Regions from separate parts of the Homo sapiens genome. Here all the other regions are linked to region 4. The links come from fine-mapping of genetic effects on gene expression. A gene starts in region 4. Each other region holds a variant in brackets. All regions are shown on one strand. Distances are from middle to middle.

The links. PIP is the estimated chance that this variant, and not a neighbour inherited with it, causes the effect.
Region 1: its variant is the best candidate, but not a certain one, in a credible set for the expression of ENTPD1 in whole blood (TOPMed, PIP 0.50).
Region 2: its variant is the best candidate, but not a certain one, in a credible set for the expression of ENTPD1 in whole blood (TOPMed, PIP 0.56).
Region 3: its variant is the best candidate, but not a certain one, in a credible set for the expression of ENTPD1 in whole blood (TOPMed, PIP 0.75).
Region 5: its variant is the best candidate, but not a certain one, in a credible set for the expression of ENTPD1 in whole blood (INTERVAL, PIP 0.82).

Annotation. Positions count from the first base shown.
Region 1 is chr10:95,876,051-95,881,154 of GRCh38, reverse strand. It overlaps ENTPD1 (ectonucleoside triphosphate diphosphohydrolase 1), which reads right to left. Exons shown (of 10, transcript NM_001776.6): 10 at 3,889-5,104. ENTPD1-AS1 (ENTPD1 antisense RNA 1) reads left to right here. Exons shown (of 6, transcript NR_038444.1): 3 at 4,495-4,637. Among named protein-coding and RNA genes, the nearest start is that of CC2D2B, 29 kb to the left of the region's middle. The variant G/A (reference allele first, on the strand shown) is at 2,045.
Region 2 is chr10:95,588,931-95,594,034 of GRCh38, reverse strand. No RefSeq gene overlaps it. Among named protein-coding and RNA genes, the nearest start is that of SORBS1, 30 kb to the right of the region's middle. The variant G/A (reference allele first, on the strand shown) is at 2,031.
Region 3 is chr10:95,861,438-95,866,541 of GRCh38, reverse strand. It overlaps ENTPD1 (ectonucleoside triphosphate diphosphohydrolase 1), which reads right to left. Exons shown (of 10, transcript NM_001776.6): 9 at 1,681-1,818; 10 at 1-365. The coding sequence ends at 159. All of the region lies in intron 3 of ENTPD1-AS1 (ENTPD1 antisense RNA 1), which reads left to right. Among named protein-coding and RNA genes, the nearest start is that of CC2D2B, 44 kb to the left of the region's middle. RefSeq lists a silencer at 956-1,250 and an enhancer at 1,069-1,298. The variant T/C (reference allele first, on the strand shown) is at 2,092.
Region 4 is chr10:95,753,717-95,758,820 of GRCh38, reverse strand. ENTPD1 (ectonucleoside triphosphate diphosphohydrolase 1) reads right to left here and starts at 2,658. Exons shown (of 10, transcript NM_001776.6): 1 at 2,566-2,658. The coding sequence starts at 2,581. It overlaps ENTPD1-AS1 (ENTPD1 antisense RNA 1), which reads left to right. Exons shown (of 6, transcript NR_038444.1): 6 at 2,107-5,104. RefSeq lists a silencer at 1,408-1,467 and an enhancer at 2,798-3,097.
Region 5 is chr10:95,638,876-95,643,979 of GRCh38, reverse strand. It overlaps ALDH18A1 (aldehyde dehydrogenase 18 family member A1), which reads left to right. Exons shown (of 18, transcript NM_002860.4): 3 at 774-988. Among named protein-coding and RNA genes, the nearest start is that of ALDH18A1, 15 kb to the left of the region's middle. The variant G/A (reference allele first, on the strand shown) is at 2,250.

The DNA of each region.
Region 1 (5,104 bases), 120 kb before region 4:
TTTTAAAGCTTATAGTTACAGTCTGATAGCTGATAGTGATACAGGAGATAGAGATTATTTAGGCAGATAGTGAGGGCAAAAGAGTCCTTGGAAGACCCCTCTCTGTAGCAGAGAACTATTCTTTCACCTGTTAAATTTCTGATCTTAACCTCACTCTTTGTGTGTCTGCATCCTTGATCTCTGTGGCCGTCAGACAGCAAACCTCAGGTGTCACCCCAGACAACGAGGCTGCTTCAGTGGGAGGGTGTTTTGGGCTCACAAGTAGATAAAAAGGAGAAATGAAAATGAGGCACAACCCAATTTAGGAGACATCACACCAAAGTCATCTTGTGTCCTGCTGAATTGGGTAAAGGGAGATATTGCTAATACAATAGCATTTATCTTTTATTTATTGTTAAAATACTGGTAATTTATAGCATATTTCCCCTGCCACACATGGGTCTGGGAAAAAGTCAAGGCTTCTTAATGATCAATACCCTCAAAATGGTGTACAGATAAAGAATTATGATTATGCCAACAATGAACCTGTCCAAAGGCATAGGGATTTTGATGAATACCAGTGTAGTGATAGCATAGCAGAAAAGAGACACTTGAGAGACTGGGATTTTGCTAGCAAGGGACTAGGATCAAGATGTTCATTTTTTTTTTTTTTTTTGCTAATCATCAGTGTTACAATGTCTCCCAAGAGGAGATGGAGATCATTAACTGGGTGCCTAGAACAAAACCAAGACCATTTAATGATCACCAGCCTCACAGTGACCTCCATGAACCAGACCCTGGAGATGATTTTGATTTTGTTAGCAAAGCTTGTAGACAAAAGATGCATACTGTTCATAACCAGGCCTATAGTAACTTTCAGGAACACTTCCAATGAAAGATTTTGGTTTTGTTAACAGAGGCTGGAGATAAAAACAACTCTTCCATATAGCTGTGAGTACTCAACCTCATGGGGATTTTCAGAACCAGTTACCTGGACAAGGTTTTCATTACTTCAGTTGAAGTGGTTTGTAAAGGTAAAGACCTTTCCACCAACACTATTCTTATGATGAAATGAATTTGGAAGATTTAGAATGTACTGATGAAGTATCAGATCATACACTGGGACCTTTATATGATCATTCCAACAGTGATTTTTCAGAGAAAATGCCCTTGAAAAAATGTGTTAATAGAGGTTGTGGACAAAGATTGCCACTTTCTCAAAAATTTCAAAAACAAATGGAGTTAAGAAATTTTGTTTTCAACAATGGAACTGGACCAAGGCAAATATTTTACTATTACCACCCACCTAGTGAGCCACAAGAATAAATGCCATCAGAAGACTTGGACTTTGACCAAGAAACATTCTTTTTTTTTTTTTTTTTTTTTTTGAGACAGAGTCTCGTTCTTTTGCCCAGGCCAGACTGCAGTGGCGCTATCTCGGCTCACTGCAAACTCCACTTCCCGGGTTCACGCCATTCTCCTGCCTCAGCCTCCTGAGTAGCTGGGACTACAGGCACCCGCCACCACGCCCGGCTAATTTTTTGTATTTTTAGTAGAGACTGGGTTTCACCATGTTAGCCAGGATGGTCTCGGATCTCCTGATCTCGTGATCCGCCCACCTCGGCCTCCCAAAGTGCTGGGATTACAGGCGTGAGCCACCACGCCCAGCCCCAAGAAACATTCTTACAAAGACCAAGATCTTTTCAGGACCACCCACTTCCTGTTAACATAAATCCTGATTGGTATTTAAACAAGTCAGTCATTTTGTTCTCTACACTAAGGAATGGTATTTTATTTCAATGAAACACTCAAACTTCTTTCAAATTAGGGCATTTGTATAAACATTCAAAAGTGGTATAAAATTATCACTCAATATTTGTTGCGCTATAGATTCAATTTACAACCGAGGTTATTTCTGATTGCTATGAATTGAAAATACCCCATTAAGTTATTTCTTAGGATTGAAGTAAATATAACTTACATTTAAATAGTTTAATTCTTGACCATAAAGAATATCAGAAACAGGCCAGGTGCAGTGGCTCACATCTGTAATCCCAGCACTTTG[G/A]AAGGCCAAGGCGGGTGGATCACCTGAGGTCAGAAGTTTGAGACCAGCCTGGCCAACAATGCAAAACTCTGTCTCTACTAAAAATACAAAAGTTAGCTGGGCGTGGTGGCAGGCGCCCGTAATCCCAGCTACTTGGGAGGCTGAGGCAGGAGAGTCACTTGAACCCGGGAGGCAGAAGTTGCAGTGAGCCAAGATTGCGCCACTGCACTCCGGCCTGGGTAACAGAGTGAGAGACTCCATCTCAAAAAAAAAAAAAAAAAAAAAAAATCAGAAACATAAATGTAAAGGCCATGATTTTTAGACAAGGGTCTTAAAAATATTCCTTATAGATGTGCTACAAAAAATATTTTTGACATACACAACCCAGTAGTCCTTTCTTCTATCATTCAGTAGTTTTTAAATCTGTATCACTGAGGTGAGAGCATTAGCAGATCACTGCCCTCAGAAATTGAAGTGCAAGGCAAGGAGAAAAGTAAAGCATGGCACCCTAAAGGGAAAGAACAAGAGAAGGAAGGATATAAAAAGGTATAGAAATCAAAAGAAAAGTCAGGAAAAGAGAAGTGCTGGAATAGAAAAACTGGAATAGAAAATAAGGCCACAGAAGAGAGAAAAGGTTGAAGGGACACAAAGAGGTGTATAGAGAAAGTCATTATGTGCCTTTCCCCGATTTACAATATATTTTCTCCAGTTATCTATGACATTATTCTGTATATACCTGGTTAGATGTTAACTCCTGCCTGAACCTAGTGTGGGTTATTTTGGTATTTCTTTAGAGACTACTCAGTTTTTCTCTCATAACTTTTCTACTAATATCTCATCTATCTTCCTCACCTTCTTCACTTGACAGGAATCTTGGTACCAATAATTGCAGAGGTAGAAGTCAGAGGTAAATATTGATTTAGCTATGGGATAATCTTTCTCAACCCTATCCCTAATCACTCCCATTGATATGTAAACATGTTAGAAAATAAGTGTTTCATGAATTCACACATATTCAGGGTTTAGATACAACCTCTACAGAGGTTGGCCAGGACCTCTTGAAATGACTGTCACTTCTCCTTCATGGCTTGGGGTTGCAAAACTGATCAGTTTATCTGTACCTAGGTTTCCAGTAGCTAGCAGTTGGTACCAGTTAAACCAGAAATTGTTTCATTTCCCTTATGATAATATAGCTCTATTCCATAATTATAATTCTACACCCTAACTCCAACCCACTGTCTTCCATTGTACAAGATAAAAGACAATGCTGGTCAATAAAAATTCCTTGCTTCTCTTAGGAAAACCTCTCTATTACTGATGGTGGGTTGGGTTAGGAATTTTATAGTATTCCAAAGAGAGCATATAAAAAGGCCTTTTCTCAAAAGCCTTCCTTTTTCTTCCCTCTTGTCACTCAGTACCAGATATGGGGTCGGGGTTACAAGTACACTATATGAAAGAATGAGTTTCAATATAAATGGATATTCCATGTTGAACTAAGCTACTCTATTAAAATCAGATTCAAGTTTTTGTTTCAAATTACCAAGTTTTTCATACTTCCCTAATTTCTTCATCTACTACAGACAGGATTAAAATGACTCAAAGGTATTCCAATCAAGTGGAGAAACCTAAAGGAAAAATTTAGTTATCCTAAAAAGCCTTGGCCTAAGAAAAAATAAGGCAGATGACAGCCAGACAGGATTCCTCCTACCCTCTTCCTTTTAACTGACCCACTACTGACAGATCCATACAATACAGCATGTTATAAATTTGGGTTAAGAAGGGATTGCAGTTGGAAAAAAATAGAGTTCTCTATAAACACTATGAAACAGTTACATTTAAAACATACTAGAATTGTCCCACAAATGTATATTTCAGAAGAAGTTTATTAAGAGGTTTTAGGCTTTAAGCATATGTGAAAAGCAAAAATTACATTTTAAAGTATATAATTTGCATTTTCCACCTTCTCAATGCCAATGAAATATTCTAGGAGACTCTATAAGATAACCAATTGATTTTCTACTACTCCCAAATTTTAACTTTGTAATTTAAAGAGGAATAGGCAAATAGAGCTGCTGTGGTTCTGGTTCTCCCTGCAGGATGAAGGGGGCCTGCAAAATGTCTCCTACTTCCATTCTAGTCATTCAGCAAGGTGCCTTCCTCTGGATGCACTGTCTGTATACTTTTGCCATGTTGCATCACATAATGATTCTGCCCACCTTCACCATTTGACTGTCAGTAAAAGAATGTATGTGCTCATTTCTTCTTTTATTATAGCGCAGTGCTCTTCATGAAGTCTGAATCTTGTTTCATTTGTGATTGTAATTAGCACTTGCTTCTTCAAGACTGGCTAAATGATGATAATCAGTGAAGTTCTGTGATGGGCACATGGATGTGTATTATATTTTTCTACTTTGGTTAATATTTGAATATTCCAATAAGTTTTAAAATAACTTGTTTGTTTCTGTTATTAGAATGGCCTGTCCAGAAGACAGCCAAATACATCCTTCAAACAGACTTCACTGCAGGAGACAGAGTGGATTCATCCTGTATTCTCCATGTAGACTTCCATCTTCATGAGTACTCCAAGAAGATGGTTCAGTTGACTATTGCAAAGGTAAAAATCCAAGAGATACAGATACAGAATAGGACAGAGAGACATATTTTTAAGCTATTGATTACAATTATGGTATGCCTATAGATTGCAGAACCGAGGAGAAAGGGAACATTATGATTTACCATCAAGAAAAACTTAGAATTGGTGCTGAGTAGTTCATTCTAAGAATTACCATTTATCTGTATTTGCCCCCATTTTCATTGTTACTAGGCCAAAAGTCATTTCATAATTAATAAGTTGGATGTCAAAATCAACTTGTGTTATTATAAAATTAGCAATCTACATTATGTGTTTCTTTACATTTTTATAGGAGTATTTATAAATATACCTAAGAAAACTGACAATGTGGAGTACAAATGTTGCATTTTCAAAACTGGGAATCTGTTTATTGAGGCTCTATTTTTAGTTATGTATGATAATAGACTGCATTTCAGGTTTCAAACCTTGTAAAAATAATTTCCTTATGA
Region 2 (5,104 bases), 160 kb after region 4:
GGCCTCTTCCATGAGCATGGGGCATAGCCATTGGAAGCTTCCAGACTTATTCTCACAGCTTTGTCAGACTTTCCACCCACTGTAAAAATAAAAAGGCTCATGGTCCCCAGTTTCGCTGCAAAAAGACTCTAGTCTGTTTGGGCCACCTGTCCTCACTGTAGTAGAGGTGTGGAGCAGGGGCCATGGTATGCTCTGGGTTGATTCAGCCGTATATATCTGGATGACCTCACTATGGTTAAATGTTGAAAGGGTTTCAGAGGGCTTCCTCTTCTGGATAGGATGTATATGTAGGAACAATCCAACACTCCTGCTGAAGCAACTAGAAAAAACAGAGTAAGTTACAGAAATCACCTTTTTAAGACACCTCAGAGTTGTGCCATCAATGAGGACTAATGAACTGAAATTCTGGAGAGGAAAGAGCCCTTTCCGTTTTTTTTTTTTTTTTTTGAGACGGAGTTTCACTCTTGTTGCCCAGGCTGGAGTGTAATGGCACGATCTAGGCTCACCGCAACCTCCGCCTCCTGGGTTCAAGTGATTCTTCTGTCTCAGCCTCCCAAGTAGTTGGTATTGCAGGCATGTGCCACCACACCCAGCTAATTTTGTATTTTTATTAGAGACAGGGTTTCACCATGTTGGTCAGGCTGGTCTCAAACTCCTGACCTCAGGTGATCTGCCCGCCTTGGCCTCCCAAAGTGCTGGGACTACAGGCGTGAGCCACTGCGCCCGGCCGGAAAGAGCCCTTTCTAAATGTGCTGATTGTCTCTGACCATTTTCTTCCCAGGGGGTATTTGCCAAATCTGTGCACAGGCCAAGGATAGGGCTTGACCCAGGCATAGGGTCTCTACTGGGGCAAAGAGAAACTGGTAGAGTTTTTGATGATCAATGTTATCTGGTGTAATGTTAGAATCTAGAGCTAAGCTGGAGCTCCTAAGAACAGAGCTGAATCTTCCATAGGCTTTCAGGGATGAGAAGACAGAGACATGCCAATGAAAAGCTTGAGTGGGCTCCATCCAAGGAATAGTGGTGACTCAGAGGTGGACTGGGACTAACCAAGACTGCAACCCAGCCTCAACCCAGCTGAATTCTTGACTAGGTTAAGGTGATCAGTCCCTCACCCCATCTGCTAACAGAAGAAAAAGAGATTCATCACTGGAGGAAAATAATATCATCTTTTGCCTCTGTTTTCTTTTATATAATTATAAGGCATGCAAAGAGCAGGAAAATGTGACTGATAAGGAAAATAAGCAGGGGCCGGGCATGGTGGCTCATGCCTGTAATCCCAGCACTTTGGGAGGCCGAGGTGGGTGGATCACCTGAGGTCAAGAGTTTGAGACCAGCCTGGCCAACATGGCGAAACCCCATCTCTACTAAAAATACAAAAATTAGCCAGGCGTGGGGGTGGACACCTGTCATCCCAGCTACTCAGGAGGCTGAGGCAGGAGAATCGCTTGAACCCAGGAGATGGAAGTTGCAGTGATCCAAAATCGCACCATTGCACTCCAGCCTGGGTGACAAGAGTGAGACTCTGTCTCAAAAAAAAAAAAAAAGAAAGAAAAAGAAAAAGGAAAAAAACAGGCTGGATGCAGTGGCTCATGCCTGTAATCCCAGCACTTTGGGAGGCTGAGGTGGGTGAATCACTTGAGCTCAGAATTTGAGACCAGCCTGGGCAACATGGCAAAATCCCATCTCTACTAAAAATAGAAAAATTAGCCAGGTGTGGTGGCACATGCCTGTAGTCCCAGCTACTTGGGAGGCTGAGGTGGGAAAATCACTTGAATCTGGGAGGCAGAGGTTGCAGTGAGTAGAGATCGCACCACTGCACACCAGCCTGGGTGATAGAGCGAGATCCTGTCTCAAAAAAAAAAAAGAAGTTAAAAAATTACCTGGGTGGCCGGGCAGAGTGGCTCACGCCTGTAATCCCAGCACTTTGGGAGGCCAAGGCGGTTGGATCATGAGGTCAGGAGATCAAGACCATCCTGGCTAACACAGTGAAACCCCTGTCTCTACTAAAAATACAAAAAAAATTAGCC[G/A]GGCGTGGTGGTGGGAGCCTGTAGTCCCAGCTACTCAGGAGGCTGAGGCAGGAGAATGGCATGAACCCAGGAGGCGGAGCTTGCAGTGAACCAAGATTGTGCCACTGCACTTCAGCCTGGGGCGACAGAGCCAGACTCCGTCTCAGACAAACAAACAAACAAACAAACAAACAAAATTACCTGGGCTTAGTCACAATACCTGTAGTCCGAGCTACTTGGGAGGTTAAGGAGGGAGGATTGTTTAAGCCCAGGAGGTCAAGGTTGCAGTGACCCATGATTGTACCACCACACACCAGCCTGGGCAACAGAGCAAGAACCTGCCTCAGAAAAAAAAAATAAAAGTAGAGAAAGAGCAGGCAATAGAAGCAGACCCACAACTGATTCTGATATTTGAGTTAGCAGACAAGGACTTTATAATGAGTATTATAAACATGGTAAATAGAGAAAATAGTACAATAGATGAAAAATAAAGAATTTCAACAGAGCATTCGAATCTATAAAAAAAGAACCAAATGGGCTTTCGAGAACTGAAACATGCAATATTTATAATTAAGAACGCATTAAGTGAAATATTTCCATAGCTGTTGGTAAATACCTACTGACCCAAGACTCCTAAGTTCCCTGTCCTCATCTCCTGGCCATCCTGGACCTCCTTGGGACACCCTGGACTTCCCCATGGCCCAACAACTAAGAGTTAATGGCTAGCCCAGCGTCCCTTGTGATTGGTTGGTGTCTGTGCTTTCCCATTGTTTAACTATTTTGATTTTAATGTCATCTCTGACTAATTGATTGACTGATAGAGTTGAGGGTTTTTTTGTTTTTTGTTTTTAGACTGAGTCTCGCTCTGTCACCAGGCTGGAGTACAGTAGCGTGATCTCGGCTCACTGCAACCTCCGACTCCTTGGTTCAAGCGATTCTCCTGCCTCAGCCTCCTGAGTAGCTGGGATTACAGGCATGCACTACCACACCCGGCTAATTTTTGTACTTTTTGTAGAGACGGGTTTCACCATGTTGGCCAGGAAGGTCTTGATCTCCTGACCTCGTGATCCACCCGCCGCAGCCTGCCAAAGTGCTGGGATTACAGGCATGAGCCACCGCGCCTGGCCTGAGATGAGATTTTACTGTGTTGCCCACGCTGGTCTCAAACTCCTGGGCTCAAGTGATCATCCTGCCTTGGCCTCCTGAATAGCTGGGACTTGATGTCTTGGTACTGTCACTGGAAGTCCCTATCAGAACCAAATAAATGAAATTGGGTAGAAAGAATTCCCCAAAGGTGGCAATACCAATAAGAGGAGATGTGGAAGGACACAGAAAGGATATTTGTTCACTTATGATGCCCACTCCGAAAGCCAGATATCTAAGACTGAAGCCTGCTGTTTGCCGAATTGAGCTTCTTTTAAGTTTCCTCACCACTGTATTTGAGGAGACTTGAGTGAGCCAGTGGGGAACAGATTCAGTGAGGCTAGATAAGTTTGCTGTGTGGCTTGGTCTCCTGAATATGATCAATTTGTAGCTCCTACACCAGTTATTTTCATGAAATAATCAGGACAGCCTTAGCAACCTGCGTTTCTCAAAGGCAAAAGAATTTAGTGTGGACTAACTGCCTCCCAGAATACAGGTTAAAAGAGTAGATTTTAGAGATGGACAGTTCCGGATTCAGACTCCATATCTGCAATTAACTGGTTGTTTGACCTTGGGCAAATCACTCTACCCCTCTGAATTGCTCATGTGTATCTCGAAGGTTTGCAGCAGACACTGTTGGTTAACTACCGAATGGGTTCCTCCCCTTTTCTTTGCTGAAAAATAGTGTTTTTGTTTTGTTTTTTTTTTTTTTTTTTTTTTTGAGCGGAGTCTAGCTCTGTCACCAGGCTGGAGTGCAGTGGCGCGATCTTGGCTCACTGTAATATCCGCCTCCCTGGTTCAAGCGATTCTCCTGCGTCAACCTCCCAAGAAGCTGGGATTACAGGCACGCGCTGCCACGCCCAGCTAATTTTTGTGTTTTTGGTAGAGAGGGGTTTCACCATGTTGGTCAGGATGGTCTTGATCTCCTGACCTCATGATCCGCCAACCTCAGCCTCCCAAAGTGCTGGGATTACAGGCATGAGCCACTGCGCCTGGCCAGATCTCATTTTTCTTTTTTTTTTTCAGAGTGTTTTATCTCTTCCTCTTTCAACTCAGGGGTGAATTATGCTTGGTGTAGGCCCATTGCAATAATACCACTTTTGGGTCAATGGTTGGATTAAGCATGCATGTATGACCCAGTTCTGGCCACTGAGATGAGAGGGGTGATCAACTAGAGGCTTCTTGGAAAGCTTTTCTTGTACTTAAAAAAGATACAAGGAAGAGATCGTCCCTCTGCTAAATACTGTCATGTCCAGATGGGATGCCTGGAAGTGTAACAGCCATTTTGTGGTCACAAGGGTACCCAGGCTGACGATCCAAGCCAACTAAGGATGGCAGAGTGAAAAGATGGCAAGAACTGGGGTGCCTAATGACATCATCAAGCTTCTAATTTAACCAACCCTAAAGCTACCCCTGGTAGGGACTTATTATTACATAGAAAATAACTCATTTCCTCACGTTTAAGCTATTTTTATTTGGGATTTCTCTTACATGGAGTCAAAAGCGTCCTAACAAACCCAGAGTTGTTTATGAGGATTTGATTCAATAAAATGATTTATGTAAAGCACTTAACACAATTCCTGGTATAAAAGGTGCTCAAAAAATAAGTATTATTATCATCATCATCATTTTTTTCTCATTTTTATCTCCCCTTATTGCCTTGGTGCTGGCTGTAAGCAGAGGATAATGAGTCTGGGATTTAAAGACGTGATGACAGGGATGGGGGAGTCAGAGGGAAAGGGATGAATTTAGGTGCCTGGGCTCTTCATCCAGAGCACCATTGAACAGTAATTTCAGTTAAGGGTTTTTCATCTGTGTGTGGATGCAGACAACAGAAACTGACTTAAGTTAGCTCGAATGAGCAAAAAGCTGTGTTTTTTGAAGGGTATGGAGTGTGTCACATAATTGAAGGAAAAGATGAACAGCAAAGATTTAGGCAAGGAAGGAATTAA
Region 3 (5,104 bases), 110 kb before region 4:
TCCAAAAGAAAGGCTTCAGTAAAAGCCAAGGAAGCTTCACACTCGTCAAGACTGGCCCTGGCAGACAGGGAAGGATGGCCTTGAACACTGCGATGGAGGAAAATGCTCCCTGGACGATTTTTTTCCTCACTCCAGCCAGCATATTTCAGCTGCTTTTGCTATACCATATCTTTCCAGAAATATGAAGGCTTGTGAAAGATAAGCAAGCCTATGATGGCCACTGTGAAAAGGACCAGGGAGAATAGAACCATGAGGAAGACATAGGTGGAGTGGGAGAGAGGTGTGGACAATGGTTGCTCAGCTGGGATCATGTTGGTCAGGTTCAGCATGTAGCCCAAAGTCCAGCCGGCGTCGCTGCCCTGGATCTGCAAACAGTGGGGAAAGTCTGTTTGTGGTTGGAGGAGTTAGAAGAGTTATCACCTAGGGCTTAGAATTATTGGATCATGCATTGGAAGAGTTCAAACAATATAAATCACTGGCTGGGCACAGTGGCTCATGCCTGTAATCTCAGCACTTTGGGAGGCCAAGGAGGGAGGATCACTTGAGGCCAGGAGTTTGAGACTAGCCTGGGCAACATAGTGAGACCCTGTCTCTCTAAAAAATAAAATTAGCTGGGCACGGTGGAACATGTCTGTAGTCTCAGCTATTTGGGAGCCTGGGTGGGGAGGATCATTTAATCCCAGGAGTTTGAGGCTTCAGTGAGCTGTGATCATACCACTGCACTCCAGCCTGGGTGACAGCGTGAGACCATGTCTCTTAAAAAAAAAGTATATACACACACATACATCATGACTACCTCGTGTGTCAGTCCTAAATTTGACATAGGTATAATCTTTCAAACAAAATAAACTGCTGGAATTAAAGGAAGTCTGGAATATTATAACAAGGAAAAGATTTAAGTTTGAATTAGCAAGATCAGCACTGACAAGAGTGTAAGGACACTGTTATCCTCAGGCCTGCTACAGCCCTCTGTCTCAATGCTTTGTTTTGCTTGAAATCACCATATTTAATACAGGGGGTAAAATGTTTTCCCCACTAGTGAGCATGGGCTTAAAAAGGTAGAGACACACTGCTCTGGGTATTTTTGGTCAAGCATGAGTCGCTCAGCTGGGTTCTCTATTCCTGGATACCTGCAGGTGGTGCTATGGTAAAGCACAGCATTGAGGTTGCTTCTTCCGGACTCAGGCTAAGCCTGGCTTCTAAACAACGGTCTCATCATTCACAGCCACTCAGTCCCCTTCTTCACACAGAGCTTTCAGATTGGTCAACCTTGAAGTAATAACCAACAAGGATGATGAAACCATGATCATACTTTCCCAGCTTATGGAAGGGGCCTTTCAGAGGGCTGCTGAAGTCAGCACACAGAGTCACTGTAGCTGCTGAAATGCTGTTACTTTAATATATCTCGTTTTGTGTTTTGTTTTGTAAGGAATTAGTCACTGTTATGTGGGAAGGTGCAACTGAAAATGCAAGTAGCTGTCCTTAGCGAGGATGCTCACAGTGGGCCAACAGACCCAGGAGGGCTTGACACAGAATGCCAGGGTTTGAAGCAGAATGGCAGAACAGGACATCAAGCCAAAGCTACACCATGCTGACTCCCCCCTTTTTCAAGCCCCAAACTGCTTCAGTCACTACCACCGAACCCCAACCTCCCCCCAGCCCAACAGGCCCCCAAATTACCTTGCCAATGAAATGGATGTGCTCCCAGGAATCAGCTGTGAAATGATAGCCTTGCAGAAGGAGGGAGAGAATGTAGGTACCAGAAAAGCAGTATTCACTCAGGTACTTCTCCTTTACTCCAGCGTAAGATGTTTTTATCTAGAAGTGAAGTGAGGGGGAGATCATACTCGTATGATAGGCACCTCTCTGTGGCCCTCTTTTTCTCTACTAGCCCTGATGAAGAGAGGGGAAAGCCCCAGCTCCAGTGCACCTGAAGGTTGGCCTCTTCCAGAGGGTTTTGGGGGTGGTGCTGCACTCCTTCAGTGGGAGCAGGGTTTTATAGTTTAGGGTCTCTTAAGGAAGCTTTTCCTGCACAGGCTTCTATGAGATAATAACAGGTCCTCCAGGAAAAAAGTAGTTCCTGTGGTCTAG[T/C]AGGTTCTGAAACACTAAATTTCAGTACCTCTGTTCATGCCCTAGACTTTGTTTAATCTGAGTTTTCTATATGCTCTTGACCAGAGCCTTTGGCCCACAGCCATAAAAAGCCTTACCACTCACTTTAGTCCCTGGACTGGCAGCATCAGCATCACTTGGGAGCTGGTTAGTCCTCACCTTAAAACTACCAATTCAGAATCTGCATCCCAATATGATTCCCAGGTGATTCACGTGCACAGTAAAGTTTGAGAAACACAGCTGTGGACACAGTTTAGGCAGCATTTTGCTGAGGACTGCTAGCACTGCCAACATCTCACCTTCTATCTTCTGTCTTAATGTCTTTTTTTGCATCTGAGTCATGCAAAGTGGTTGTTTCCTTGAGTCCTTCCTATGTTTACTCATCCTACTCCCTACTAAAAATATTAAGAGCTGCTTGCCATCCCTTGCCCTTACCTAGCCTAGCTGTTGTGAATATACACCCAGATACCCACAGCCTGCTCTGCAACTCTCCTGCCCTCAATTTGAGGACAACAGGCCAGGACCTCTCTAGTTCAGCCTGGACTTCTGTCTGCTGCCCCATTCCTCAGCCCTTCAGATAGGCATTCCCTCCTGGATACCCTCGGCAGAGAGAGAACATTTGTTATGCATGCATCATGTACCATCTGGAACTATGCCAGATGTTTTATATGTAGTATCTCCTTGATGCCTAAACCACACCCCTCTTTTCCCAGATTTCTCTCCCTTCCGTGGGTCCTAACCCATATGCAAATCCTAACCGCTGGCTGGGGTCTGTTTCTCACTTGGTTCTTGCCTGTCCCCAGTTTCTGGAAGGATAAGTCCATAACTAGACTGCCTTGTCTTGCTCTGATGAAATTCTCAGAATGACCCAGCTTGGAGCTTGTCTTTTCAGCACAGTTCTGGAAATTATCCTTTGATTGATTCCTCTGCATGTGACATCCTCTTGAGACCTTGGTGTGGACATCAGTTGGCATTGCCTGTCCAGGTTCCTACCCCTTCCTTTCAGTCACTGCATTCTGCTTTCCCTTTGTGAAAAGACCTCCTCCCCTATTGAAGTAGTCTTGGGCCTGTCAATTGAAGGATGCCTATGGGACACAAAATCCCAAGAATCTACTTAGGTCCAACTTGAAAGTGCTGAGCCCCTGTAGGTCCTTGAAGGCTGGCCTATCCCTTGTGGGGGGCTGGGAGATGCCATTTTGGCCTAATTTCCCTGAATTCTTTAATACTCCTATTCCCCTCCTCCTTCTGGAAATCTGTACATTGGCTATGCAGTCTGGCCTCCTGAAGGTTATGATAGTAGCCAAAAATATAGAAGCCAAAAAGGCATCCACCTTCTTCATCAATCCAGAATTGATCATGCTCATGCCTGTGGGTGGATCACTATGTGCTCTCCAAATTGGGAGGGGAAGTCTACTCTCCTCTCTCCTCTCTCTCCCACCTTCCCCTCTCTCTTCTCTCCTTTCTATTCCCAGGGCAGTGGAACATGATGAGGTTCTTTTCTCTTCATGGATATCCTCTTTCTGCCCTCCACATAAAGGGGCATTGATGGATCTTCAAGAATGGGATGCCTTTCCCTAGAAAGGCTAAATATTCATGAGGCTGAATGTGAGGATCCAGAGTACACTGAAATATAACTGGTCATCAGTACACATAGAATCTGATCACATTGTTCACTTGGGCTGACCAGATCTTGGATGACCAGATTTTCAGAGTAGAAAATTGGCTGTGTTCTGGCTGCTGAAAGATTCTACTAGCCCTCTAATGAAGCTGCCAGAAGACAACCATGGAGTCTCCCTTCCACTCACTCTCCTGGTCCCTCCACTTCAGAGACCCAATGGCTTCAGGTACCTGACTGAGTGTCAGCAGGTGTGGTTTGCATTTTATTTCCCTTGCCAAAGCAGGGGAAGGCAGCATGATAGGATATGCATAAAGCACAGCAAGCAAATGTCCACCACTGTCAACACATAGTACATGCTTAAACATTGTTAATTATCTCTCTACCAAAGGTGTTTAGGAGGAACATTCCCAAACACAAGCCATACTGGAGTAGCAGTCCATGATGAAGTTAGGAGGGAAAGAAGAAAGAGTCACCTTCTAACAATGTACTTGACAAAACTATGCTTTCTACCTGGGTGGACGATGCAGCTTGGGAAAGTGAACCCTGGGTCATAACATCCACCTCAATGCTGTAGGCTCTGGGTGAAGACAGGGGTCTAACCCTGCAACCCCTTCCCCAAATGCTTCAGGAATTCTCCCAAATGCAGGCCCTTCTTAGCTTACTTCCAGGGCCTCTGAACAACTCCCCACATGACTTACCTGAGCAGAACTACAGGTCTAAATATAAGCATTCCCAGCCTAACATAGTCTTATGAAGTAAAACATGAGATGTGGATAAGAGAGGAAACCTGACAGAACTTTTTTTTTTTTTTTAATTTTTGAGATGGAGTCCTGCTCTGTCACCCAGGCTGGAGTGCAGTGGCACAATCTCAGCTCACTGCAAGCTCCGCCTCCTGGGTTCATGCCATTCTCCTGCTTCAGCCTCCCAAGTAGCTGGGACTACAGGTGCCCACCACCATGCCCGGCTAATTTTTTTTGTATTTTTAGTAGAGACGGGGTTTCACCATGTTAGCCAGGATGAGAACTTTTAATCTAAACCAGAAGTAATTTTTTTTCAAAGAGCAGCCTAAATCTGCTTCCTCAGCAGCCACATGTAGGCCTGGTCTCAAATTGCCTCCACTCTAACATGCTTATCTTCCTCCACAGATCACCGCCAGATGCAAAAAACCACCGCTAAGCATTTTGTAAAATGCTGAGACATATTTGAGCAACTCTTGATGAAGGCCCTGACCACATTTCTTTCATGTTCTAGACAAAATACCTGGAGAGAATGGCAAGCTTCCAGGCTCTTGCTCAGCCTTTCTTCCCCCTTGTCAGTGCAGTCAGGGATAAGCATCTATTTTTAATTAATAGTATTTCTTAAGAATGAAAACACCAT
Region 4 (5,104 bases):
CATATGTCCACTTCCTGCGTGGCTTCTGGCCCTCTATGACTGCTATATGGTCATCCTCTGTGGCTACCTCCTGTACCCCTATCATGACTGAGGCCCCTCTCCCACCACTCTGCCCACACTGATGAGAAAGTTGCCACAAGTTTAGAGACTAAAAATAAAATTGCACTAGACACTGCAGATCTAAAGGTGAATACAGAAAATATAATTGGAAGGGAGAGAAGGTGATGCAGAGGGCAGGAGCATGGACAAGTATGATGAGTGCCACCTTAGGCATAACTGATGAGGTACTATAGAAGCATCCAAGATGGGGGCTAATCTAGACTTGAAGGATTAGAGAAGGCTTAAAGGGGAATAACACCCAATATGAGGCTTCAAGCAGTGATAGCAAATGTTAATATTTATTTAGCAATACTATATATCAGGCCCTGTTCTAAAAACTTTGCATGAATCCCTCATTCAGTCCTTACCACAACCCTGTAAGATAGATGTTACTGTTATTCTCTTCATGTTACAGATGATGAAACTAAGGCACACAGTAAATGGTGGAGCTGAAATTCAAACCCAGGCAGCTCGGCTCCAGACTAAAGGGGAAGCAGAGTACCAGATAGGCCCTTAAAACAGAAGAAAGTGCCTAGCTTCAGTCTGAGGAAAGATGCAGTTCCTTTGGGGAACTGAAAGCAACTCAATGAGGCGCAGCTTGGGGTGGGGACAGACGTTCAGAGATGACTGGGTCTGCTCTGTAGGTTGGAAGAAAAACCAGAAGCAGAGGGTTTCAGATCCAGTCCAAATCTTTTTTTTTTTTTTTTTTTTTTTTTTTTGAGACAGTGTCTCACTCTCGCCCAGGCTGGAGTGCAGTGGTGCAACCTCAGCTCACTGCAACCTCTGCCTCCCGGGTTCAGGTGATTCTCCTACCTCAGCCTTCCAAGTGGCTGGGACTACAGGCGCACACCACCACACCCAGCTAATTTTTGTATTTTTAGTAGAGACAGGGTTTCATCATGTTGGCCAGGCCGGTCTCGAACTCCTGACCTCAGGTGATCCGCCCACCTCGGCCTCCCAAAGTGCTGGGATTACAGGTGCGAGCCACCACATCCAGCCCCCCAGTCCAGACTTTTGACAACTAGCTGTGACTGGTGTCACCAAACTAACCCCTTCTGACCTCAGTTTCTCCTTTTTGCAAAAGACCATAATAACAATACCTGCTTCTCATAGAGAATGGCCATGAGCACCAAATGAGGAAAATGTATGTGAACTTGAGTGCAAAGTACAAATTCCTTCACAGACTTAAGATTTTACCAGTATCACTTCCCCAGTAGCTTCAAGGATTTGCAAACCTGAAATCCACAATGTCAGGGCACCAGAAAAAGCAGAGAAACAGTATTGGGGAGTGGAAAAGCCCACCAGCCCTGCCTCAGACCACCTCCATCCACACTCAGCCCTTACTAACTATGAGATCTCAAGGCAAGTTATCCTCTCAGTACCTCAATTATGCCATCTGGAAAATGGGAATGTCAATGATAGCACTTGTAAGGTTCATGTGACAAGTAAGTAGCACATGTAATATGCTAGGTATAGCTCCCAACACAGAATAAAGACTTAGTCAACATTAACAGCTATCATTATTGTAAGTATTAAGAAATATGTTGGCTACTCATGCTATTCTTCCATGTTCTATACGGTATAAGCATGTGGGAATGTTAGAAGTTAGAGATGATAAAGAAGGAGGAGAAGGAGGTTTACAACCCTATACTCCCTCACTGCTGCAGAGATTCTTCCTGGCTCTCACACGCTGGCAAGCAGCTGGCTCTCCGTCTTGGCAGAAAATGCCCAAAAGAGGTAAAAGATAGAGACTGCACACCATCTGTGCAAACCAGGCTGCTCTTGTAGTTTTTAGACAAAATCTAAATGTAGTCAGATGTGACCTGCCCTTTTAAGATAGAATTATTCTATTTCCTCCCTCTACCCGTCCCCGTCCCCCACTCTGTCCCCCACATAAAACTCCCCCACATATCTCAAGAAACTTTCAGCATTTTGAAAGACATACTCTGGGGTCCTGTTGTGACAGCCTTGTGCCACATTAACTTCTCTGTCTTGTTCCCAGCAAAGAAGCCTTTGCTAATTTCACAACAGGAAAGCATGCAAGAAATTCGAGAACAAAACAAATCTACACGCAGAGCCCAGCATCTTCAAGCAAACACCCTGAGGTACAGACCCGAGGCTAGATGAGTCCGGACTGCAGATGAGGCAGCTGCCTCTTAAACTGCAAGGGGACTGAAAAAGTCATTTGCCTCTAAAAAAACCAACTCTGAATACAAATTGATAATGAATATTCATGAGCCCCTCCAGCTTGCTCTAGAGCCACCCTTGACTGCAACCCTGGACTCTGCTTCCTAAAAAGTTTCCCAAAGCTCTTTCTCTGCCTCCTCTCAGAAGGAAGAGGGTGGGAAAGTTCATTCAGGGCTTTTTGCCTCCAGCTTTCAAGTACTTGCTTTTTGGTCTGGGCTTTTATTTTTCCTTCTATTTTTTTTTTCTTAAGGATTCAGATCAAATCAATTTTGGTCTTACCCTTTGTATCTTCCATAAGTAGCAGCTTTTGTTTTCCTCCTCTTTCCTCGTCTTTCCCCCCCCCAGCCTCTGCTTGCTGTGGTCCGTCTCCGTGAGAGAGGTCCTCAAGGAAACAGAGATATAACAGACCCTTGGGCTCGTGGGAGGGGCTAAATTAGCCGGCCCCGTTTCGGAAGGAACCTCAAACCCTGTCTTTTTCATTGACTAGAAAGGACAGATTGACTGAGGAGTCCAGCAGCTCATTTTCCTAAAGTTACTCGAAGCCTTTTCCAGGTTGTAATTTTTTGCATCCTTGAAGCAATGTATATTCAAATCTCTCTCTCTTTCTCCCTTCTTCCCTCTCTCCCTTACTCCCTCCCTCTTCATCTCTCTCTCCCTCTCTTCGTTATAGAAATCCCTTTTTCTCCCTTGAAAAAGTCATCTCAGCTGCAAGCAAAAAAAGCTATTCCTTACTGCAATTATGAAGCTAGATAATAAGAAAGTTGTTACCTTGAAACCCGCTCGAAAAACTGAAAGTCAAGAACAGTTCTTCCCTCCCCATAAAGCCTCTGGTCCCATGACCAGCAATCCTTTCTCAAGGCTCATTAGAGCAAAGAGCAACAGGTGACCCAAGCGATGAGTTTCCTGCAGGAGACGCTGCGTTATTGGTTGGAAGGCTGGGTGGAACCACAGAGGAGCTGCTCAATGGGAACCGCTGCCTGGCTATGAATTGATGAAAGTCATCCACCATTTCCCAACTTTGACTTCCTACCTTTGAAGTCTAATGAGCATGAATTACCACATCCAGACCGTCAAGATTACCCCAATGTAGATGAGAGCCTGACCAAATTATTTTTAAACTGTGTAACAAAATTATTTTGAAATCAAAACAAGGGCTAATCCTTTGAAAGGAAGGTAAGTCCTCAAGTCCCAAGGCGACTTGGCAGCTTCTCCCTCCACAAGGCTGTTGCAAACCTTAGCATTTCAGGTCTGAAAGATACCTCAGACATTGAGTCTAAAAGAGGTTAGAGATGTGGAGAGGTTAAGCCACCTGCTCATGCTCACATACATGGTCTCTCTTATTTGCTACCATGTTCCCCAGCACCTAATACAGTTTCTCTCACAGCATGGGCTCTCAATAAATATTTGATGAATGGTTGAAAAAAATGAATGAATTGCAGCAAAGCAGAAATGTAGATCTGTTTTCCTGTTTCCTAGTTCTTGATTTTTCTACATTGCTTGTCTGGCATGTAAATTTGTATCTAAAGCCAGTTATACCATATAAATCATTAAATTTGTGAGCCCGAAGGACTGTTTTGACTCTATGTAGAAACTATATTCTCCAGCGAGCTTTCAGTCATACTTTAATAAGGACAAAGGATAACCTTTTAGTTTAGGCATCTCTGTTACTTTGCACGGTGCCACATGGTATATACTCAATACATTTTTTATACTTTAATAAATTTGGAGCTGTTTAACAATACTTTATTTCTGAAATGCTTTATAGTTATAGGATTTTGCATGTATGATAACAACTAATTACACTGAATGAAAGACTCAATGGATGTCTTCTCCCGAGTCAGTTTAGACTACATCTCTAATAATGAATATTGGTCTGATATTCATCCTGTTATGATAAAACTGGTTTTTGGTGATATGATGGGATTTTTTGTAAAAACCAACAATTGGTTTATGACTGCCTTTGTACTATTGTTTTGGAGAGAAATTTGAAAAGAGCATGTCCACAAAATAGTGTGCGAATTACAGAATGGAAACCAAAACATCAAAGCTAGAAAGAGAAAAGAATGATCAAAGGGAAGATCCAGAGTGGCTGAGGGGTAGGCAGGAGAAACAGACAAACAAGTACCTGAGCTTGTCAATGAGAGACACACTTTGGTGGGTGCTGTGGCAACGGTTCTCTACTTTATTACATTAGGATATTAGGTTCTTTTTTTTTTTTTTTTTTTGAGACAAGAGTTTTACTCTTGTCTCCCAGGCTGGAGTGCAATGGAGCCATCTCAGCTTACTGCACCCTCTGCCTCCCGGGTTCAAGTGATTCTCCTGCCTCTGCCTCCAAGTAGCTGGGATTACAGGCGCCCGCCACCTTGCCCAGCTAATTTGTGTATTTTTAGTAGAGATGGGGTTTCACCATGTTGGTCAGGCTGGTCTCGAACTCCTGACCTCAGGTGATCCGCCCGCCTCAGCCTCCCAAAGTGCTGGGATTACAGGCGTGAGCCACCATGCCTGGCCTATTTTACTACGTTCTTACATTCTTTTTTTTGAGACAGAGCCTCACTCTGTCATCCAGGCTGGAGTGCAGTGGCGTGATCTTGGCTCACTGCAACCTCTGCCTCCCAGGTTCAAGTGATTCTTGTGCCTCAGCCTCCCGCGTAACTGGGATTATAGATGCGCACCACTAAGCCTGGCTAATTTTTGTATTTTTAGTAGAGATTGGGTTTCACCATGTTGTCCAGGCTGGTCTCAAACTCCTGGCCTCAAGTGATCCGCTTGCCTTGGCCTCCCAAAGTGCTAGGATTACAGGTGTGAGCCACAGTGCCTA
Region 5 (5,104 bases), 110 kb after region 4:
TAGAGACGGGGTTTCACCATGTTGTCCAGGCTGGTCTCGAACTCCTGACCTCAGGTGATCCTTCTGCCTCGGCCTCCCAGAGTGCTGGGATTATAGGCATGAGCTGCCATGCCTGGCCGGCTTTTTCCTCTTTTTATAGTAATATGGTTTCTTTAGAAACACCCATATTTTTCTGATTATGAAAAAAAAATGCATCTTTACTGCATAAACTTGGAAAATCTAAGAAAGAACAAAGAAGAAAATTTAAAATTGCTTATAATCCTATCAAGAGATAAAATATTAATTTTTCATTAATTTTATCCATCTATGTGTTTATACATGTATATGAAATTAACATGTATTTTTCTACATTATTAAAAATTCTAAAAATGTTAATCTTTTTCCCTTTATCCAACATTTACTCTGCTTCTGATTTTTCTGATAATAAATAACAGTGATGAATAGCTTTCTGATAAATCTCTTTTTTAGAGAACTTTTTTAAGGCTTTCGATAAATTTGCCAACCTGTCTTCAAGAGAGATTAATTTGTTTGTACTCTTCACCAACAGCATTTGAGTGTGCCTATGACCTGCATACTGGGTGTAAACTCCATACAATACTAAAATAAGAATACGCTAGATAGAGCTTTTGATACACTGTGCTAGTTTTACACAGTTAATAATGATAATGCTATTTTTTGGTATCTAAACTGGTTAATACTGAGCATGTATATTTTTATTGAAAAACTATATTGAGTATTTCTTTTTTTCTTGCATTTGACTTTGATGGCTACAGATTGTATCCAGCCTTCAGTCATCAGACATGTTCGTTCTTGGAGCAACATCCCGTTTATCACTGTACCCCTCAGTCGTACACATGGCAAGTCCTTCGCCCACCGCAGTGAGCTGAAGCATGCCAAGAGAATCGTGGTGAAGCTCGGCAGTGCCGTGGTGACCCGAGGGGATGAATGTGGCCTGGCCCTGGGGCGCTTGGCATCTATTGTTGAGCAGGTGATTGCCAAGATAGAAATTATGCTGTACTAAAATTGGGTTTTTAAGTCGCTAGTTCAGATTAGGTTTAAGTTGCTCATCAACTTAAAAAAATAATTGTGATTTCAGTGCAGTAGATTTAACCCAATGTGAAAACTGTTTCCCACTGTAGACGCCAGTGAGAGACGACATCTTAGGGCAAGAAAATGGGATGTTAAGGAGTAGGGGTGATTTCATGCAGTTCATGTCTCAGACTTCTTAGTGATAAAGAGCTGTTTCTGTCAGAGATTCTTAGTTCTGACTACGCAGTAGAATCATCTTGGGCCTGGAGATGCTTGGGCTTCACACCTAGCCATTTAAGAAGTATCTCTGGGATGAAGCAGCTGTGTTTGTTTGTTTTGAGAGGATCTCACTCTGTCACCCAGGCTGGACTGTTGTGGCATGATCATGGCTCACTGCAGCCTGGACCTATCGAGCTCAAGTGATACTCCCACCTCAGCCTCCCGAGTAGCTGCAGCTACAGGCACAAACCATTATGCCCAGCAAATTTTTGTATTTTTCGTAGAGACAGGGGTCTTGCTATGTTGCTCAGGCTGGTTTCCAACTGCTGGGCTCAAGTGATCCTCCCACCTTGGCCTCCCAAAGTGCTGGGCCTGCAAACTTTTTCTGCAAGAGGCCAGATAGTAAATATTTTAGTTTCGTAGGTTATATGGTCTTTGTCTCAACTACACAGCTCTGCAGAAGCAACCATAGATAATATATAAATGAATGAGCGTGGCCGTGAGCTGATAAAATTTCATTTACAAAAACCAGCAGCATGCCAGATTTGGCCAAAAGTAAAAATCCAGACATCCAGGCATCCCACAGATAAAGCAAGAGCTATTCCATGGCAGCTGAAATCTTACACTACCTTGTAATTAAATTTTCAGTTTTTAAAAAACAAGTTCCTGAGGTGTTAATATTGGGAAATTGCTAACCTGAAACTTGATACAATTTTTTTCTTATATTTTCTATTCTAAATTATCAAGCCTGAGCAACAAAGTGAGACCCTGTCTCTACAAAAATAAAATCGGTTGGGTGTGGTGACTTGCGCCTGTAATCCCAGCGCTTTGGAAGGCTGAGGCAGAAGGATTGCTTGAGCCCAGGAGTTCGAGACCAGCCTAAGCCACATAGTGAGACCCCCATCTCTACAAAAATTTTTTTAAAAATTAGCCAGGCATGTGGCACGTTCCTGTGGCCCCGGCTACTCGGGAGGCTGAGGTAGGAGGATTGCTTGAGCCTG[G/A]GAGATTGAGGCTGCAATGAGCTATGATCATGCGACTGCACTCCAGCCTTGGTGACAGAGCAAGACCCTGTCTCAAAAAGTTCTAACTTCTTGGTAGGCTGAGACAAGGGGATTGCTGGAGCCCAGGAGCTCAAGGTTGCAGTGAACTGTGATAAAGTCGCTGCACTACAACCTGGGCAACAGAGCAAAACCCTGACCACCCCCCCACCCGCCCCTGCAGAAAAAAAAAAACAAAAAACACCCAGAACAACAGCAATGATCAAACCCACCTCCCAGATTGAGTCCATCAGATAAATTTTAAAAATATTTATCAAGAGACTACACTGTGAGGGGCACTAGCCTCTCTACCCTCTCTACCTTAGAAACATAACAGTCTTTACCCTTTGCGAGCCAGAACTGGGACTCCCCACACATTAAGGTGACTGTTCAGGGCAGTAAATATCCAAATAAGTGGGCCCAAATGACAGTGAGCGATGGGTCCAGAGGTGGGAAACTCAGATGAGAGTATGGTTGTTCCTGGGGCTTCCTAGGAGAGCTGGAACTCAGCCTGGGCCTTGACAACTGATGGGATTTGCACAAACAGAGGGGAAAAGTTCCATGCTACTAAGTACACAGTGTGAGGTGCCCCTGCAGTTGTGCAATCCAGTGGTTCTGGGGAAGGGACAGGCTCTAGGAGTGTATTCCAGGTAGAGGACAGGCAGGAATGAGTATGGCATGCTGTGGGCCAGGGAGGAGACAAGCTGGAAAGCAGAGGTGGTGGTCTCATTAGGAAGAATGAAAAATAAAGTGGATCATTCCATTAGGCAGAGCTCTGAAGCCAACTAGGTGAGTTGGAGTTCAGTCTCAAAAGCAGGCTGAAGATTTTGAACGGAGGAGAAACTTGATGAAAACGGTAGGAAAAACCTGGTAAAGGTTTGCGTAGGTTACCAGCTTTCTTTCTAGGGCTGCGTGTGGACCTAATGGAAGAGCTGTCTCCATCAGGGCCTGACTAATAGACATCTTATCATGTCAGATGGACTCAGGAGCCAACTTAAACTGGCTTCCACTGGCCATAAATGGGATGATGTAAACATCAAGAAAGGGAATCACAGCTGGGCACAGTGGCTTACACCTGTAATCCCAACACCTTGGGAGGCCAAGGTGGGCAGATCACCTGAGGTCAGGAGTTCAAGACTAGCCTGGCCAACATGGTGAAACCTCATCTCTACTAAAGATACAAAAATTAGCCAGGAATGGTGGCACCTGCCTGTAATCCTAGCTACTTGGTAGGCTGAAGCAGTAGAATTGCTTGAACCTGGGAGGTGGAGGTTGCAGTGAGACAAGATCGCACCACTGCACTTCAGCCTGGGCGAGAGTGAGACTCAGTCTCAAAAAAAAAAAGAAAAAAGGGAATCACTGCACAATACAACAAAATATGTTTAAATCCATGAGTTCATAATTATACTTAAAAAAAAAACTTCATTGGCCATTTTTGGAGGCCACTAGAGAAGCTACTCATATTGAAAATGGATGAGTAAAGGGGAAGAGACACACATTTGTCCTGCTTTTCATAGACAAACTGTACCTCAGGGTAACCAAATAGTTGGTAAAGGAGAGTTTCCCTTTTGGAATTATTCCAGATTATAAATGACGAAGGAATCATTGAGTTAGAGTGTCAGCATTTTGCATCTCCTAATGGAATAATGGATCTTGGCAATGATCATCAACAGATGCTAACATCACAAAAAGAAAGATAACCAGGCATTATGTATCCCCTTGATGAACATGTACACCACAACTTATAAAGACTTGTTGGGGAAAAAAAAAAAAGCCTTCATACCAAACAGCAGTTTATAGGGTATACAAAGAGCAGTATTAATACCATAAGGACACAATTGGGAAAATGTAGGCTGGGAAATCCTAAAGAATAAACAACTCAGTTTAACAAAAAATTACAAGGGGGAAAACTGATGGAGAAGGGAACCCATGAATGAAAGAGACTTGAGAGACACTTCAATTAATTTGTAATGCAGGGTTTAATTTGCATCTCAATTTGAGCAAGGTAAAAAAAAATTGGAAAAATATGAACACTGGCTATTTGATATGAAGGAAATCATTGAAATATTCCAGATAATGGATTTGTGGAGAGAGAAAGACATATAATTATATATTATATATAATATATATGATTATCTTTTAGCAGTTATTACTGAGCTATTTACAGATGAAATAACATGTCTGTTGCCTGGAATTTGTATTAAAACAATGGTGAGGGTATAGAGGGGTTATTGGAGAGTGGGAAGTTGGCCATGAGAGATAGTTGGTGAAACTGGGTGGTATGTACATGGGGATTTATAATACTATTCTCAGCACTTTGGTTAAGTATTAAATTTTCTTTTTCTTTTTCTTTTTATTTATTTTAGAGAGAGGGTCTTGCTCTGTCACCTAGACTGGAATGCAGTGGTGTAATCATAGTTCACTGCAGCCCTGAACTCCAGGGCTCAGTTGGGATCCTTCTTCAGCCTCCTGAGTAGCTGGGACTACAGGCACATGCTACTTGGCTATTATTTTTTTTAATTTTTCATAGATATGGGGTCTTACTATTTTGCTCAGGCTGGTTTCGAATTCCTGGCCTCAAGCAGTCGTCCCACCTCAGCCAGCTGAAACTTTCTGTGATAAAATATTATTGTCGGGGCCAGGCACAGTGGCTCACACCTGTAATCCCAGCACTTTGGGAAGCCAAGGTGGCTACTCAAGGGGCTGAGGTCAGGGGGTTGCTTGAGTCCTGGAGGTCAGGGCTACAGTGAGCCATGATTGTGCCACTGTCCTCCAGCATGGGTGACAAAGCAAGACTGTGTTTCAAAAAAAAAAAAGTT